Linked DNA regions of Homo sapiens: region 1 is linked to region 2. Evidence: fine-mapped expression QTL. A gene starts in region 2. The other region holds a variant in brackets. All regions are shown on one strand. Distances are between the middles of the regions. Region 1 overlaps MTA1-DT (MTA1 divergent transcript). Region 2 holds the start of CRIP1 (cysteine rich protein 1).

The links.
Region 1: its variant is fine-mapped to the expression of CRIP1 in whole blood (INTERVAL, PIP above 0.99).

What each region holds. Positions count from the first base shown.
Region 1 is chr14:105,415,174-105,418,131 of GRCh38, reverse strand. MTA1-DT (MTA1 divergent transcript) reads left to right here. Exons shown (of 2, transcript NR_125385.1): 2 at 1-551. Among named protein-coding and RNA genes, the nearest start is that of MTA1-DT, 3.1 kb to the left of the region's middle. RefSeq lists an enhancer at 1-108 and a silencer at 2,777-2,958. The variant T/AAAT (reference allele first, on the strand shown) is at 1,254.
Region 2 is chr14:105,485,095-105,487,905 of GRCh38, reverse strand. It overlaps CRIP1 (cysteine rich protein 1), which reads right to left and starts at 1,020. Exons shown (of 6, transcript NM_001311.5): 1 at 934-1,020; 2 at 607-707. The coding sequence starts at 646. RefSeq lists silencers at 81-290, 461-590, 641-740, 751-800.

The DNA of each region.
Region 1 (2,958 bases), 70 kb after region 2:
CCCAGCCACACCACTGGGACACATCCTGACAGTGACATGCACACTCTTCCCTGGCCCCAGCCTGGAGAGGAGCCTCCTGAAGACACCAGCCTTTGCTCCTTCTCCCAGTGGGAGTGGAGAGAACTGACTGCTGGAGTGGAGACAGTCAAGGCTGTCCTTCTGAGGGAGCACAGCACAGGGTCTGGTGTCCCAGGGAGGCAATCTGAAATTCAAGCCAGGCCTCCCCAGCGGAGAGGACACACCCCTCACCATGCAGAGTGACGTTTAGTAAACTCTCAAAAGAGAGCACAGAGCCCCACTCCTCCAGCCGACCCATACTCTGCCTCCCCACTCCAGACCAGTGAACAAGGTGGATTGCCCTTAAGCCAGCTCAGAGGCAAAGTCCAAAGACCTCAGGTGAGTCAAACAATAAAAACAAAGAATTAAGAAGAATCCAGCTGGGTGCGGTGGCTCACGCCTGTAATCCCAGCACTTTGGGAGGCTGAGGCGGGAGGATCACGAGCAGGAGGTCGAGACCATCCTGGCTAACACGGTGAAACCCCGTCTCTACTAAAAATAGAAAAAATTAGCTGGGCGTGGTGGCGGGCGCCTGTAGTCCCAGCTACTCCGGAGGCTGAGGCAGAAGAATGGCGTGAACCCAGGAAGCGGAGCTTGCAGTGAGCCGAGATCATGCCACTGCACTCCAGCCTGGGCGACAGAGCGAGACTCCGTCTCCAAAAAAAAAAAAAAAAAAAAAATCCATCCACTCCATCCACTTAGTAGCAGAGCGAATAGACATTCAGGAAAGAGCTTTCACGTCAGAAAGCACTACAGAAGTAGTGGCATATCCCCGGAGGCTGAGGTGGGAGCATTGCTGAGAGGTGGCACGTGACCACATCCATGTCATTCAACAACAGAAAAACAAGTCATCGAGGGTGTGAGGGGCCGGTGAGAAACCCAGTATGGAAGAAAACACAACTGGGCTGAGCGTGGTGGCTCACGCCTGTAATCCCAGCACTTTGGGAGGCCAAGGCAGGAGGATCACCTGAGGTCAGGAGTTCGAGACCAGCCTGGTCAACATAGTGAAACCTCATCTCTACTAAAAATACAAAAAAATTAACTGGGTGTGGTAGCGCGTGCCTGTAGTCCCAGCTACTCCGGAGGCTGAGGCAGGAGAATTGCATGAACCCAGGAGCCGAGACCACACCACTGCACTCCAGCCTGGGGGCGGCACAGTGAGACTCCGTCTCAAAGAAACAAAAATAAAAAATAAA[T/AAAT]AAATAAATAAATAAATAAATAAGAAAACGCAACCAAAGAAACAGAAGAGGACTCCACAGGACTTCTTTCAGAGCTTCATAGCAGCATGAATTCAACAATCAGGAATTCAAATGCTTGACGACAAAACAGCAGGATGGGAGGAAGAGTTAAGAGCCAAGCAAACCGGAAGCACCAAAATCGCACCGTGGCTGGATCAAGTCATAAACAGCAAAGGGCAGAATATCAAGTTACTTGGAGATGAAAGGCTTGAGATAATTTCAGAGCAAGACAAAGTGATTAACACAATAATTTACTCATTGATTATTTGTTAAACATCTACTTCAAGCTACAGGCCACTCTAGGCCTTGGAGGGTAAGGAAACAGCACCTTTGCCCTCAGAGGGTTTGCAATCTAGCAGGGAGGGGAACATAATAAAGTGTATAAAACCAGGGCTCTGGCTCTGAAGTTCCAGCACTTTGGGCAGGTCACTTGAACCCAGGAGTTTGAGACCAGCCTGGGCAACATAGTGAAAACCCATCTCTACTGAAAAATATAAAAATTAGCGGGGCGTGGTGGTGCATGCCTGTAGTCCCTGCTACTTGAGAGGCTGAGGCAGGAGGATAGCTTAGGCCTGAGAGGCATAGTTCGCAGTGAGCCGAGATAGCACCTCTGCACTGCGGCGTGGGTGGCAGAGCAAGACCCTGTCTAACAACAACAACAAAAACTGATCTTAAGTCCAGCCAGTAAAGATGTAAATCAAAACAAAGACTTTCAGTGGGTCAAATACTGGCGGTGAGCCTTGATCTTCTGGTAAGAAATGCCCTGCCAGGGGATATGGAAATGTCAGTGCCAGTTCCTCACCATTCACAGGCAGAAGTCAGCCGGTGCCGCCTCAGCCGAACCGTGCTTTGCTGCTGTAAACCAAACACACTCATCTCTTGATGTTTTTGTAATTTCTAAAAATAATCGTAGAAGACTTTTTTTTTTTTTTTTTTGGAGACAGGGTCTCACTCTGTCACCCAGGCTCAAGTGCAGTGGGCCTATCTCGGCTCACTGCAGCCTCGACTTCCTGAGCTCAAGCGATCCTCCCACCTCAGCCTCCCAAGTAGCTGGGACTACAGGAGAGCACCACCACGCCCGGCTGATTTTTGTATCTTCAGTATGGATGGAGCTTCCCTTTGTTGCCCAGGCTGTTCTCCAACTCCTGAGCTCAAGCGATCTGCCTGCCTTGGCTTCCCAAAGTGCCGGGATTACAGGCCTGAGCCACGGCGCCCGGCCATCGTAAGGAGACTTTTAAACTTGAGGTGAAGAAGCATTCATCTGCTTTTAGCAATTTTTTTCTTTAAATATTTAAAAGTCTATAAGTAGCAACTCGACACGTATTTCTGTATTTCCATTACATCCTTTTATCTCCCCATATACATTTAGAAATATCTGGGATAACCTTTAGGTAATGTTAACAGCTGTTATTCCAGGGAGGACACTGGGCGCGTTTTTAAAGCTGTATTCGTTGCTGTATTAATAGCAAGCGGTGTTTCTGCAAAGCCAAGGAAGGCGTTTCTCCAGCGGGGCCGCGTCGGGCATTGTCTGGTGCGCCGGGGAAGGCCGCGAACTACATCTCCCAGGCGCCCCGCGCCCCGTTCCGCGCCCCGCGCCCCCGCCCGCGCGGCTCCTGCTGTGGTGCCGGAGCGTCCTCGGCTCGGTCCGGAGCCAGCCGGAGTCACA
Region 2 (2,811 bases):
TGAAGGCTGGGTGGGGCTAGAGGGCGAGGCCGAGGGTCAGGGGTCGCGGCTTAGGTCAGCAGGGCCTGGGCCTGGCTGCCTGCTTTCAGCCCCGGGCCTCTGCGGTGGCAAGGGTGGAGCCTGCGACAGCCCTTCTCGGCGGGGACAGGGGTGACTTCCCACTTCCTCCCTCCCCTCGGGGCGCGCGGGCGCGGGGCAGGGAGGCGGGCGCCCGGGATCGCGCCCCGGGCGTCGGTTTCCGCGTCTGTTTCCACTTAGCGCTGGGGGGCGCGGCCCCAGCCCCGCGTTCCTTCCAGCCCTGCGGGTCCCCCACTCAGGGCGCGCCTGAGAGGAAACGGCAGAGACCGTAGGACCCAGAGACGGGGAGGCTCAGAGCCAGAGGTAGCCCGCCGAGCACAGCAAGACCACTAGCAGGCAGAGATCGCCAGGGCCCTCGGACGCAGGGGCCTCCACCCTCATCCCGGGGCAGGCGGCGGGCCAGGCTGAGGCGTTTTCAGGCTGGGGCGCCGCCCCAGGGACCCAGCGCCCCCGGTCCTCCTGAGCGGTCCCCAGCCTCGTCGCCCCGTCGGCGGCGCCTCCTCGCGGGGCCGGTGTGGGCGCGCTCACCGAAGTACACCTCCTTGTTGCACTTGGGACACTTGGGCATGACGGCTCCGGGTCCGGTGCAGGCGGCAGCGGCTGGGGCGGCACGGGCTGCAGGCGCGAGACTGGGTGGATCCGGCCTGGTCCGCGCCTTTCAGGGACCCCGGGACCCCGCCCCTTGGAGACCCCGCCCCTCGCGCCCCGCCCTCTGAACCCAGGACTTGGACCCTGGGGACCTCGAATCTAGGCCCAGGGCCCAAGAAAGATCATCTGGTCCACCCCCGCCTTCAGGCAGGACCCGGGCCTGACTGAGGACGGAGCGCGGGGGGGCAGGGGGCCATGGGGACTTACTGAGAGGGCGCAGCTCTTTAGGCGAGTTCAAGCCGCGCCCCTAGCCCAGCGCTGTGATGTCTCCCGGGTCCAGTTCCGAGGCAAAAGGCTCACCCGCAGCAGGAAACGCCGCTCCCACCCCCAGCCCTACCCCACCGGCACCCGCCCGAACCCCAGATCTGCCCGGGCCAGGACTGGACCAAACATCACTAAAATGCAAAGAGATGCAAAGCAGCCCGCGCGCTGATCCTGCCCTCCCCAGGACGGAGGGTCGGGGACAATTGCCGGAGAGCCCCCGCTGTTGCCCCCCACCGAGGAACCCACTCTGACCTTCCATCCCACGCAGGGTTACGAGGCCGCCCCTGTCAGTCCCCTCACTCCCAAGGGACGTCCCCGCCTCTGCTAGCTCCCCTGACCTCCGCTGCTCTGGGAGGTCCATCGGACCGCAGCGGGAACATCCCCGGGGAATTCAAAAGCGGGGACTCCCAGAGAGGGGAGCTGTAGCTTGAGGACCGATCGGCTGCGGGGGCTGCGGGGGCTGGGGTTTCGGCCGGCAAAAGAGAGTTCAGCCACCCCCAGGCCGGCTCGGAGATGCCCGGACCGGGCGCAGGGAGGGGCCCTTATCTCTGCGGGTAGCGCCCAGGGCGGCCAGAGCGGTCCAAGTACGCTGCAAAGTTGAGGCGGAGGATGGTCCCGGTGCCAGGCGGAGTCTGTCCCGCCTCACCCGCCCCCCAGATTCAGGAGGGCCAAGGGGGCTGCGCTGGCCTCGGGCTTTGGGGTCAGCCCTCTAGCTGACTGGCCAGCCTCAGGAAGGGAGCCCAGGTCACTGTCAGCCCCCTCTCCTGTCACTGAGCAGGGGAGCCCTCTCTCTGCAGGCCCTTCACCTCCATGCTGCATGGAGCTCCCTGGGAGCTCCCACAGCACAAGGGCGGTGCTGCCCTTCCTCCCCACCCACCATCCCTCCTGTCAGCCATGTTAACCAGCGTCCTTATCTCCCCTCGATCTCCACTGGGCCTGTGCTGGCCCTGTCCCCGCTGGGGGCGCTGGAGACCATCCTCCTGGGCCCCAGGAGCCGCTGGCCTACCGCTGTCGGGCCCTGAGCCCTAACTGCACCTGTGATCCCAACCTCACTTTCCCTGAATCCTACCGCACCCCTGTCGGCACCTCGAGGCCTGCACTTAGAGGAAGAGAAGCCGCCTGCCCTGCCCTGTCTGCCACCAGTCCCCAGCTTGGGGAGAGGGCAGGGGCAGCAGGGCTGTAGGACGGCCAAGGCACAGGCGTCTGGCACAGAGGCCACACTCCAGAGAGCCCCACACCAGCACACCCAGCCCAAGGCCACATCCTGCTTGCCCTCCTCCTGGCGCCCCTCTAAGGCCACAGTTCTGTCCCCCGACTGGGGCTAAGTCCTGGGGTCTGATAGGACATTCCACAGGGGCCCATTGGAGCCCTCCTCATCCCCCATTCTGAGACCTCAGAGATAAGGTTTCCAGAGTAGGGGTGCGCTCCTGTCCTGCAAACTTGGAACCCCCACTCTCCAGCCCATGAGCCTTGAAACCCACTCTGAGGTCTGGGCCCACCTGCCATCTCCACTGAGTGTGGGGCATCGTGGGACAAACCTGCAGACAAGCAGAGGGAGAGGCAGAGGCACCAAGAAGGGGGAGAGGCCAGGGGAGCCCGGACAGTATTGGGGAGGCCGGGGGCTCTGTCACTGCACTTTCCCTGGGGCGTGCGCTGCCCCCAAGCCCCAGGGTGCCCAGCACCGCTGTCCACACCCCCACCAGGATGACGTGCTCCGGGTGCAGAGGTGCAGGGCAAGTGCCTGATGCACACGTGTGTGCCTGGTGCCCGTGGACATACCCGTATGGGTGTGTCCATCAGGGGTCTCTGGGGTCCCCGCGA